Linked DNA regions of Homo sapiens. The protein of the gene in region 1 interacts with the protein of each later gene in a pairwise test. Each region holds a gene or a part of one and is shown in the gene's direction. Other genes may lie near its edges.

What was found.
Region 2: the proteins of TRIM10 (region 1) and ZNF148 interact in binary tests that used the Homo sapiens proteins (3 or more experiments, as listed by UniProt).
Region 3: the proteins of TRIM10 (region 1) and ZNF620 interact in binary tests that used the Homo sapiens proteins (3 or more experiments, as listed by UniProt).

Annotation. Positions count from the first base shown.
Region 1 is NC_000006.12:30,154,577-30,158,325, reverse strand, and holds part of TRIM10 (tripartite motif-containing protein 10), read left to right. Parts: intron 1-934; coding exon 935-957; intron 958-1,271; coding exon 1,272-1,387; intron 1,388-2,566; coding exon 2,567-2,599; intron 2,600-3,749. UniProt on the Homo sapiens protein: E3 ligase that plays an essential role in the differentiation and survival of terminal erythroid cells. May directly bind to PTEN and promote its ubiquitination, resulting in its proteasomal degradation and activation of hypertrophic signaling.
Region 2 is NC_000003.12:125,373,552-125,377,300, reverse strand, and holds the start of ZNF148 (zinc finger protein 148), read left to right. Parts: upstream 1-1,975; 5' UTR 1,976-2,199; intron 2,200-2,591; exon of another isoform or gene 2,592-3,074; intron 3,075-3,749. UniProt on the Homo sapiens protein: Involved in transcriptional regulation. Represses the transcription of a number of genes including gastrin, stromelysin and enolase. Binds to the G-rich box in the enhancer region of these genes.
Region 3 is NC_000003.12:40,508,967-40,512,715, forward strand, and holds part of ZNF620 (zinc finger protein 620), read left to right. Parts: intron 1-2,503; coding exon 2,504-2,630; intron 2,631-3,435; coding exon 3,436-3,549; intron 3,550-3,749. UniProt on the Homo sapiens protein: May be involved in transcriptional regulation.

The DNA of each region.
Region 1 (3,749 bases):
TGTCTCCCTGACTCACACATCTCTGTATCCCAGATGGGAGGTGGGTCAGAGGACCAGAAAGTCTCAATTCTAGTTCATGCTTTTCCAAGAGTTCCCTGGTCACTTTTTGCTCTCTGGTCTCCACCTCTCCGTCCCACCATCTGCCAAATAGGGAAGATACTTTCCTTAAATATTTCACAGGGCTTTTGTGAGGATCCAACAGTAAGATGGAAGTGAAAGTAGCACTTTGAAAAAGTATTAAGTAAGTTGCAAACCATTCTCTATAACCTAAATGTCACCAACCACCAGTCAGGAAGTTTGTCCTGGTCTATTTCACTTCCTCACACTGGAGGAGAGGTATTGGGGTCCCCACAAAGTATTGGAAAGGCAGCATGACTTAGAATGATGCTCTTAGGACTGAGAAACAGGAGACCTTGGTATGAGACTTACTTTGCCTCCAGTGAGCAGGGGAAGGTCACTTCACCATCTTTATCTAAAAAATAAAGGCTTTGGGCTCTGATCCACAGAGATGGGTGAGTCCTAATGCTCTGTGACTCTATGCATCTGGTATCCTTTTCCTGTCCAGGGCTAGAAATATATTTTGTCTTTTCCAGTCATAAGAAAAGTGGGAGGAGCCTGGGCAACATAACAAAACCCCATCTCTACAAAAAAAAAAAAAAAAAAAAAAAGAAAATTAGCCAGGCATGGTGACAAACACCTGTAGTCCCAGCTACTCAAGATGCTGAGGTAGGAGGATCCCTTGAGCCCAGGAGGTTGAGTATGCAGTGAGCCATGATCACGCCACTGTATTCCAGCCTGGGCACCAGAGTGAGACCCTTTCTCAAACAAACAAACAAGCAAATAAAAAATAAATAAAATAAAAGTAGAAAAAGAAAGGAAAGAAAAATGGAAAGGAGAAGCTGGAAACTGAATTTCTGGTATCTCTTTCTCCTAGGACATCAGAAGCACTCTAATAAGGTAAGCAATATAGTTTCTCTCTTTTCTTTTTCCATATAAATATACATACATGTACTGCATGCCTAGTTATTGCCACACAGGTATATAACATTCTCACTTAAGGATACAAATTTACATATAAACCTCTATATACCCAAATGCCTTCTCAGGTATATCCATAGATGCCCAAAAATGGGCAGTGGGATTCATCCTAGAGGAAGTACGTCTGCCTGCAGGAACTAGCGCCATCATGCCCTATTAGAAGATGACCAGCTGAGTCTGGAGACATTATTAAGGATGATAATTCCCAGACCCAGCCATTTCTGTGCCCCTAGATGTGAAACCAGAAAGTGCCGGAAACCGGTGGCTGTGTCGCCAGAGCTGGGCCAGAGGATTCGGGACTTTCCCCAGCAGGCCCTCCCGCTGCAGAGGGAGATGAAGATGTTTCTGGGTAAGAGAACCCCAGGCCTCCACAGAGCGCAGGTGGCCATGAAGCCTGGGTTTAGGAGTGGCCTCCACGCTCCACTGCTGAAAGGTGTGACTTTGGCAAGCCTTATTCCTTCCTGTGCCTTGATTTCCTTATTTGCAGATTTTTATAAAATCTGCCTATTAGGATATTGTGACAATGAAGAAAGAGAATAAAGGTGAATATTTCTGGTGAAAAAGTTAAACTGATTTTAAAATAATTCAACAAATCTGATTAGTGGTCATTAAGCAATATGAAAGATAATGATTAACAATATATCATTCTTAATAAGTTAAAAAATCCCACAGCAACATTTGTAATATGTGATAAGTTTTTGATGATGAACATTGTTAATTAATAGCCAACAACAGTATTTATCTTGACCCTGTGGTATCTGGCTCGTCCCTCCTTCCTTCTCACTTTCTTTCTGTTAGTCTGGCTCAGAGTTAGACGGTCCTACGGGGACTGTGCTCCACTTCCTTTTCCGGAACAGGGAGTGGTGGTAGGGTGTGGGGGAGGGTTTGGATGAGAGTCAGGAATGGGACATGGCTCTCTGCCAACCACCTCCTCACTAACCATGACAGAATGAATGATGACACCAATTTTGAAATGACCCACCCACAGTTATGTCACCCTAGAAGGACTTTTCCCATAATTCCATTTCCTGCAAATACTTCCAGTGACCTGTCAGTGAAGGAAATTTCACTCTAATCAAAGGCTGACCTTTGACTCTCCCCAAAATTATTTCCAAGTGGAATAATAAATAAATGAACCCATTTCTCTATTCACTAAGCAGATATTTCTTGAGCATTTACTATGTCCTGGGCTCTGCGGGTACAGAGGTGAGCAAGGCAGTCATGGTCCCTGTTTGATCAGGGCTAGGGCAGTGGGGCTCCCACCAGCAGCAGCAGCTGCATTGCCCAGGAAATTGTTAGAAATACAGATGTTCAGCTCCACCCCAGAGCACCTGAATCTGAAACAGATGTGTTTTAACAAGAGCTCCAGATGATTCTGATGCAAGCTTGGAACCACTGGTCTAGAGGATTCCAGCTTACATTCTTCTTCTTGTCCCTTCCCTCTTCTTGGCCTCAGTTTTCTCATCATTAAGTGTCTGATGGTTTTGTAAGACTAATAAAATCTCATCCTGGTTTATTTTCTTTACAGAAAAACTATGCTTTGAGTTGGACTATGAGCCAGGTAAGGAGCCTATGTCAGGATGGGAGAGAATGAGAAGTCCTCGGAAAGGAGAGAAAATTTTGCAGGATTTGCACTATGACTATGTTATGACTATGACAATAGTCATAACAAACACCCATGGATACATATACACATCATATATATTATATATACACATATGTGTGTGTATATAATACATGTGTGTATATATAGGTTGTGTGTGTGTGTGTGTCACATTGTTTGTAAGGCTCTCAGGAGAAACATGAAGAAAGGACAAGCACATACACATACTACATTCGTGGTATGAAGCTCACATCCTGATCTGCGCATGTCGAGTAGATAGAAAGATTAATGCAGAATGGGATAAAGTCCATCTGGGAATGCTTTCTGGATAAAGGGGACTTTGATCTGGGTTTATAATCACCTCTTTAGAACGTAAGGAACCCCTGCTTCCTCTCAGATGTCATTTCACAGATGACAGAAGGAGGGCGGCCTGTGGGTGGGAAAAAAATGAACAGAATGGACCCCTTCAAGGCTGTCATTTCTCAATCAACCAGCCTAAGACCCTGGGAGTCACGGAGTTGTTGGAGGGGGTTCTCTAACCCACAGATGGACCTAAATTTATGGAAGCTTCTCAATTTATGAATACTAAAAGTAACAAAACGCAAGGCTCTGCAGCAGTTTTTGGTGGTAAAAAGTGGTCCTCAGACTCTGACAGTTTCAGAATTACTGAGGCAGAGTGAATAACCCAGGGGTGAGCCAGAGAGCCTGCCAGGAGGGAAGACTGTAAATGAGTCACCAGTGCCCTGGGAGGAAAACAGGGAGGAATCATGAAGTTTGGACTGAAGGGAGAAATGTCGCTGCACTGTGGGATAGAGATGGGAGGAGGGGAGAATGTGGTATATCAGCCCCAGGAGATCCAAGCTGGCACGCACAGCTTTGGAAACCAGCCAACTTGCGGTGAGCAGAAGAGCTTTCCCGAGGACCACACTGAACTAAACGAGAGCTTTCACATCCTCTGAGGCAGGCTTTTCAGGCTTTACCTGTGTGCAAATCACCTGGGCATCTTGTTAGGATGCAGATTCTGAGAGCGTATATCTAACAAGTTCCCAGGTGGTTCCACACTGTTGGCCCACGTAGGCACTATACATGTTTTTGGTAATAATAACAC
Region 2 (3,749 bases), on another chromosome or scaffold:
TGTCTTACTAGAGCTTTGTAAGATGTCACCATTGGGGAAAGCATGGGACTCTGGACTATTTTTGCAACTTCTTGTGAGTCTATAATTATTTCAAAATAAAAAGTTAAAAAAAAAAAAAAGGAAAAGTAAGTAGGCTGAGTACCTACGGGTGGTGTTTAGGGAAGTGAGCAAGAGGAGCATGGAGAGCCAACCTGAAGCTGAGAAGTTTTTCCAGTTTAACTTATAAAGGACCTAAGCTTGCTCCTCACCATCGCTTTTGCTGTTACTATCCCTGTAGTGCTCTTCGTTCTGCCCATTTTAGACAGCTGTTTCTCTATCGCTTGTTAGGCTGCTGAGCAGAGAACTAGATCTATTCCTAATAGCAAACCAATCAATCCTAGCCCATTGGATGTAACCTCCAGGCCTTGAGCCCTTTTCAGTTATTAGTTTTCCCACTGCCTAATACTGAGAGTCGGCTTTCTTGCTGCCAGAGGTGTTTTTCATTATGACGTCTGAATTTGATGCCACTGCGGGTGCTAGAAGTTGCCAGAAGGCTGTCCTCCAGATAACTGTCCCTTGGCTCTAACTTGTGTCATTGTTTTGTTGCAATTAACATTCAGAATATGTGCGGTCATCTTATTAAAATTTATATTTTTTAATGGAGAAAGCACACAGAGAGAGTTGATTGTGGAGCTGTGGTTTACTCTTGCTCTTAGTTACCTGTGTCTAAATTAAGCTGAACCTCTGGGCCTTAGCTATTTCTAAACAGGCATCACGATTTACTAAGGTTAATGCCTGAGGGAACATTAACCTTGCAGACACTAATCTAATTCAGTGTCATCACAAGTGCATAATGCAGGAGTTTGGAATTTTGCCAAAAAGCACTATTCAAATGAACATTTAGTTGGCAAGGGGTGGGAAGGCGGGTGTGGAAAAGGGAAGGAGAACACCAGAAATGGCTCTATAGATATTTTCATGCCTTTTCTTTTCCCTCTCCCCTCAAAGGTTACGTTTAAGTATTGCAGAGAGGCGCTAAATGGAATCTTCATATTATTATGAAGAAATCCCAATGAACGCGTTTTATCCCACGGCAAGTTCCAGATGCTCACAATTACTCAACATTCACTGAGCATCTTTTATGTTATATGGCTGACCTTGTGCTAGGGTGTGTACACAAAGATGAGTAATTGTAAACGATGGCAGTATGCAGAAGCACCTCAGGGCGCCTAATGTTAGCTGACGAAGGCACCATTAAGGAGGTCACAGTTTGGCTAAAGGGCCCCCAAAGGATGAGACAACTGTGTAATCCTAGCTCTATAGAGATCATTACCAAGTCTTTGCCATACAAAGTTTGGGCTTCAGGTGAAATGAGAAGGGCAAGGTTCTGCCCAAGAGGGTCCAGGGCCGGATCTCTTGATCTGTGTCTATGCCCACACCCTGCATCTCAGCTTGCAGACACTAATAGGGTTTGCCAGTTTCAAGGGCGCAGGGCTACATCTTCCGGAAAAGGTGGCATTTGAAGGTGGTAAGAGGCCAACGACTGGAGGTGGCGGCGAAGGGCTAGGTAAGACAGAATAAATGAAAAAGCCAAGACATTTCTGGCAAATAACCTTTCACCTAGGTCCCCGACCCTTCCATTTCCCCAGGCCTGAAACGCTCCCGAATCCCCGAGTCCTCCACTTTCCAAGCGCTGGGCATTGGTTAAGGCTGTAGGAGCAGGGAGTCCCCCGCTCTAAGAGAGTTCCTCAGTTCCGATCTTTTTCAAACCGCTTTCCTCCCAGGCCCAGCCTGGGGGGCCTGCGGCTCGGGTCCAGCTTCCACGGCCACCCTGGGCTGGTGACACGCAGGCGCCGGAATCGAAGCCACGCTGTGTCTTTCCAGCCAGGTCTCTGCGCCAGACGAGGGCGGGCGCCGCGGAGCGCTTCCCGTGTGCGGGGCTTCCCACAATGCACCGGGCCGGCAGTGGCGGCGACCGCGGCGGCGCTCTAGCTGCGGCATGTCTGCGTCTCTACTGCTCTGGGAGGAGGAAGAGAAGGAGGAAGAGGAGGAGGAGGAGGAGGGGGAGGAAGAGGAGAAAGGCGCAGGGGTGGGAGCTGTTGCCGAAGCTGCCACAGCAAAAGTTCTCCCCCCTCCCCCCTTCCCCTCCTCTCAAGGCCCCTAGAAAGGTTGGAGCTGCCGCCGCCTGCAGTCGGTGACCGCGCGACTCGGCGCCCGCCCGCGGTAAAGCGCTCGGCCTGGCAGGCCCGGGCCCGGGGGAGGGCGGGGGAGGGGGAGGGGGCGGCGCGCGGGGGGAGCGCGCGGCGGTAACGGCCTGACCCCGGGGGGAGCGAGCCGTGGCGAGGCTGGGGGTGGCCAGGGGGCCAGCCGAGGCCGAGGGAAACGCTGGGGCTGGCTGGGGGACGTGAGGAAGCAGGGCGCGGAGGGTGGGTTGGGGGGTTGAGGAGGGATAATGACGGGGGTGGCGGAGGCGAGAAGGCGGCCTCCGAGGCTGGAGGCGGGTGTCAGAGGTAGGGGAGGAGGTGGGATGTTTGCACGGGGAGGCCGGAGGGTGCTGGGTGTGGGTGTGAAAAGGCTAGGGAGACACCAGGGCTCTGTCCACCGTGCCTGGTGCAGTGCTTTATGCACCGCAGGCCTCAGTCACTGTTGCTGCCGGAGTGTGCTCTTTGGGAGAAGGGAAGGGCAGGGGTTGGAGAAAAGGGAATGCTTGCAGGAAACGTAGTGGGAGTGCGAACAGGGCGAGGGGCCGGAGGAAAGATGCCGGAGAGGTGGAGGAATGCGGGGAGGTGGCTGTGGAGGAGTCTTGAGGATTCTGGGGGGTGTTCATTGTGCAGATACGTTAGGTATTTCATTATGGAAAGAACTGAAGCGTTTCTCAGGGAAGGAAAGAAGGGAGATAGGAGTTCCCGTGAATAGAAAGGATCGCGTTTGAAGCAAGAGGGAGTGCTAAATAGTAGAGAAGATGCAGGGAATGCATAATAGAATAGACAGATGTAGTATAATTAATAAATATTGGCCTAAGTACTGAAGAGTTATTCCAGATGGGCCGGGATGGCCTAGTTCCGAACCTGTGTGGGCTGTTCAGTAGATGACATCTGGTAAGTGTGGGTCTGGGCCGTGGTTGGGGTCACTGAGAATTAGATTTTAGTCTGTAGTTTGGTCTGTGACATTTTAGACGTGCACCAATGAGTATGAGAACCTCTGAAGCAGACCTTGAGAAAGGGTCTGGCCTGTGGGGATTCCTTAGGCTATGGAGCTTCGATTTTAGAAAATTTGAAGTATTAACACTTACCCGAGGTTGGGTAAATACTATCCTGGCAAACGCTGGAATGGAAATTAATTGACTTGGTGGTTTTCTTCACTGCCCAGTTTATCTGGTCCAGGAGAATTGGTGCCGTATTATTCAGCCTGGATTGCAGTACACAAGATTATAATTAATGGTCGGGGGGAAGACATGCTTGCTGGCTCTTCTTTAGATACTTCATTTGTAGCTCAAATTAGTTGGCTGGATTGGTTCCATAAATCTGTGGCTGGTGGGAGATCTTCTGCCATTCACAGTTCCTGAAGTGAACTGTGAGGGAGTTCTCCAGTGAGAGAATACTCTCATTCAGGCATGATGGCATTGAAGAAAACGTATCAGCCAGCAAAGTGTGGGCCTGCAGAATGGAGGAGCTAGAATATCTGTTTTGGTTTTAGGTTGCAAGGAGGTCAGGACTAGTTATCAGAAGGTCTAGGGGAACCTAGGAGACTGGACGACTCTAGAGCCAGGTTGG
Region 3 (3,749 bases), on another chromosome or scaffold:
TTTGCTTTTAATTTATCCCTGTCTTTATATTTAACGTACATTTCTTGAAGGTTCTTCAAGCAATGTACTATCTTAAGCAGATAGTAGGTTCTTATTTGCTTAAAAGTCCAATATGACAATGTTTGCCTTTTGGGATGTTTAGATTATTTACATTTGATACCATTATTGATATGGCTGGATCTGGGCCTGTCATCTTTCTACTTGTTTTGTAATGGTCCCATCTGTTCTTTGTTTCCTTTTATTCTCTTTTTCTATTTTCTTTCTTTTCTTTTTTTTCTTTTGTTTGAGACAGAGTCACTGTGTCACCCAGGCTGGAGTGCAATGGTATGATCTCGGCTCATTGCAATTTCTGCTTTCTGGGTTCAAGCGATTCTTGTGTCCAGCCTCCCACGTAGCTGGGATTATAGGCACACACCACCATGCCTGGCACATTTTTTGTATTTTTAGTAGAGATGGAGTTTCATCATGTTGGCCAGGCTGGTCTCGAACTCTTGGCCTCGAGTGATCTGCCCACCTCAGCTTCTCAAAGGGCTGGGATTACATGCATGAGCCACCGTGCCTGGCTCTTTTTTTTCCTATTTTCCATAGGATTAATGGTGTGTAAATATCAGGCATCGTTCTTTTCAGTCTTTCCAAATGATCCTTTCTCTGGCCTTGGTTAGTTTTCCCACACCCATGTACTGATCTGTATTTTGTTGAATACTCTAAAGGGACCTTCTGCTGATAATTGAGATTCCATCTCTATGCAGCCCTCTCCTCTCTGGCATTCTGTCCTATAAACTCAAGCTGCCTTGGTCTCTTCAGACTCTACAAGGAAATATGCCAGGTTCTGCCTCAGTTCCCCCTTCCTGTGTTGCAGCCTGGAAATTCCTCAGGGTAGTAGCTTAGGGAATTATAGGGCTCACTTCTTTTCTTTCCTGTTTCTCAGGGATTGTTGTCGTTTTTTGCATGATATCTTGAAAATTGTTTTATATAATTTGTCTGGTTATTTTGTTTCAGGCAGGAGGGGAAATCCAGCCCCTGTGATTCCACCTAGATAAGAACTGGAAGTTTTCCCTTAGCATTTTTTTTTTTTTGAGACAGTCCCACTGTCACCCATGCCAGAGTACAGTAGCACGATCACGGCTCACTGTAGCCTCAACCTCCCCTAGGCTCAGGTGATCCTCCCACCTCAGTCTCCCGAGTAGCTGGGAGCACCACCTTGCATGGCTAATTTTTGCATATTTTGTAGAGACGGGGTTTCACCATGTTGCCCAGGCTGGTCTCGAACTTCTGAGCTGAAGCAATCTTCTCACCTTGGCCTCCCAAGGGGCTGGGATTACAGGTGTAATCTGTAATCCCTGCATTTTCAAAAACATTACCCTTTTACTTTTGGTGTTTAGTCTGTTGCCATCTCGACTTCCCAGTCTTCGTGTGTGTTGTTTTTCCTTCTCTGAAAGCCTGTAGGATCTGTTGTGTATTCTCATTTTTCTGAGATGTCTCAGTTACATGCCTATGTGTAGATATTTTTCATTCATTGTCCTAAATACTTTGTTGGTCCTTCCTTCTCTATGTTGCTTTTAAGGAGATAGAATATTTTACCAAGTTATAAACAACAGTGCACATTTACAAAATCCTTAGCTCATCCTTAGTTCTGTGGTGTGAATTGGGCCCCTTTTTGTTTGCTTCCCCTTCTGCCAGAAGTTGAGTTTCATCTTTGTCTGCTTTTCTAGTCTAGTTATCATTCATTCTCTTTCTGCCTTCTAAAATTCTGTTTATACCTCTAGTTGGCTTTGATTCTTCTCTCTCTCTCTTTTTTTTGAGACAGGGTCTCACTCTGTCACCCAGGCTGGCGTACAGTGGTGCAAACACAGCTCACTGCAGCCTCGACCTCCCCGAGCTCAGGTGATCCTCCCATCTCAACCTCCCAGGTAGCTGGGACTACAGGCATGCACCACCACACTTGGCGAATTTTTGTATTTTTTGTAGAGACGGGATTTCACCCTGTTGGCAACATCGCCAGGCTGGTCTCAAGCCATCCGCCTGCCTTGGCCTCCCAAAGTGCTAGGATTACAGGCGTGAGCCACTGTGCCCAGCCTGCTTTGACTCTTCTCTTGGGCTATTATGTTACTATCACTTTAATGGGGTTAGGGAGAGAGTGAAGATCAGTACAAAAGTGTTATTCACTGTGTTTATACAGATGTCCCCTGTGCATGTGCACACAAAACCCACACTGGGGAAAGGAGCCCAGAGGAACAGATGGGCACACAGAGCAGGGCACAGTGGAGGCAAGCAGAGATCAGCAGATGAAAATAGAGCTGTTTGCTGGGGATGACCACAAAGGGGTGCAATGACCCTTGGACTCCCCTGTTGGTGCGGGCAAAGATGGCTGAGGGCTGGCCTCATGGTGGAGTGCTGGATAACTGTCCTTGGCAATACCACTAGACCCAGTAGATCTCTGCCCCACTACTTAGCCTGATCCTCTGCCCTCACACAGGGTTTGAGCAGGAACTTGTTGTTTTAGGAACCAGTGACCTTTGAGGATGTGGCTGTGTACTTCACCCAGAATGAATGGGCCAGCCTGGACTCTGTGCAGAGGGCCCTGTACAGGGAAGTGATGCTGGAGAATTATGCAAATGTGGCTTCCCTGGGTAAGACATTTCTTCTTGTTTTTGGCCTCTGCCCTTTAAGCATCCTGGCTTCTTTATTCCTTAGAACTTTGTGGGGTTTTTTTCTTTTTTTCTTTTTTTTTTGAGACAAGAGTCTCCCTCTGTCGCCCAGGCTGGAGTGCAATGGCGCAATCTCGGCTCACTACAACCTCCACCTCCCAGGTTCAAGCGATTCTTCTGCCTCAGCCTCCAAAGTAGCTGGGATTACAGGTGGGCGCCACCACACCCGGCTAATTATTGTATTTTTAGTAGAGATGGGGTTTCTCCATGTTGGCCAGGCTGGTCTCGAACTCCTGGCCTCAAGCGATCCTCCTGCCTCAGCCTCCCAAAGTGCTGGGAAGACATGTGTGAGCCACCGCTCCTGGCAGGAGAACTTTGTGGGGTTTCTAATAACTCTCTGTTGCCCTGAAGGCTGAGCTGCCTGGAAGTTTCTGGGTGGAGAGAGCCCTGCGTTCCCAGGTTTTGAAATCACCTGTCCCTCCAACCCTGGGAGGGGCTGTACCCAAAACATGGGGGGGAAAGGAGCTCTTGGGAGCACAGCAAAGCCCCTTGTGTCTTCCAAGTTCTCTGAAGAAAACTTGAGATTCCCTTATGTGAGCGTGGGATTATTCTGGGACTCTGTGCCACTTTGTGGGAAATTTCTGTCCTCCAGCAGCATAGATTAAGTTTCTCCCTGACTCACCTTGTCTCTCACTACCTGGCTCAGCAGATAAAGATAAAGGGGGCTGCAAGAGGATCCTGGTTCCTGATTCCCCTTACCTTTTCCTGTTTCTTTCTCCCTGGGCAGCATTCCCATTCACCACGCCTGTTCTGGTCTCCCAGCTGGAGCAAGGGGAACTGCCATGGGGCCTCGATCCCTGGGAACCTATGGGCAGGGAGGCTCTCAGAGGTATCTGTCCAGGTGAGCATGAGAACCCACTAGCTGCCTTTTTGGCTTGGCTTGCTTTCTTGTTTTCACATTTCATTGTGCAAGAAGTGTTTCTTCTCTTGGGAGACTGTTTTTGTTCCTGTGGAATCATTACATGTGATTCTCTGAGTTCATGGTGGTAGCCTACCTCAACTGGGGAAGGGCCAGTCTCTTTTAAGACAGGAATGACTGTA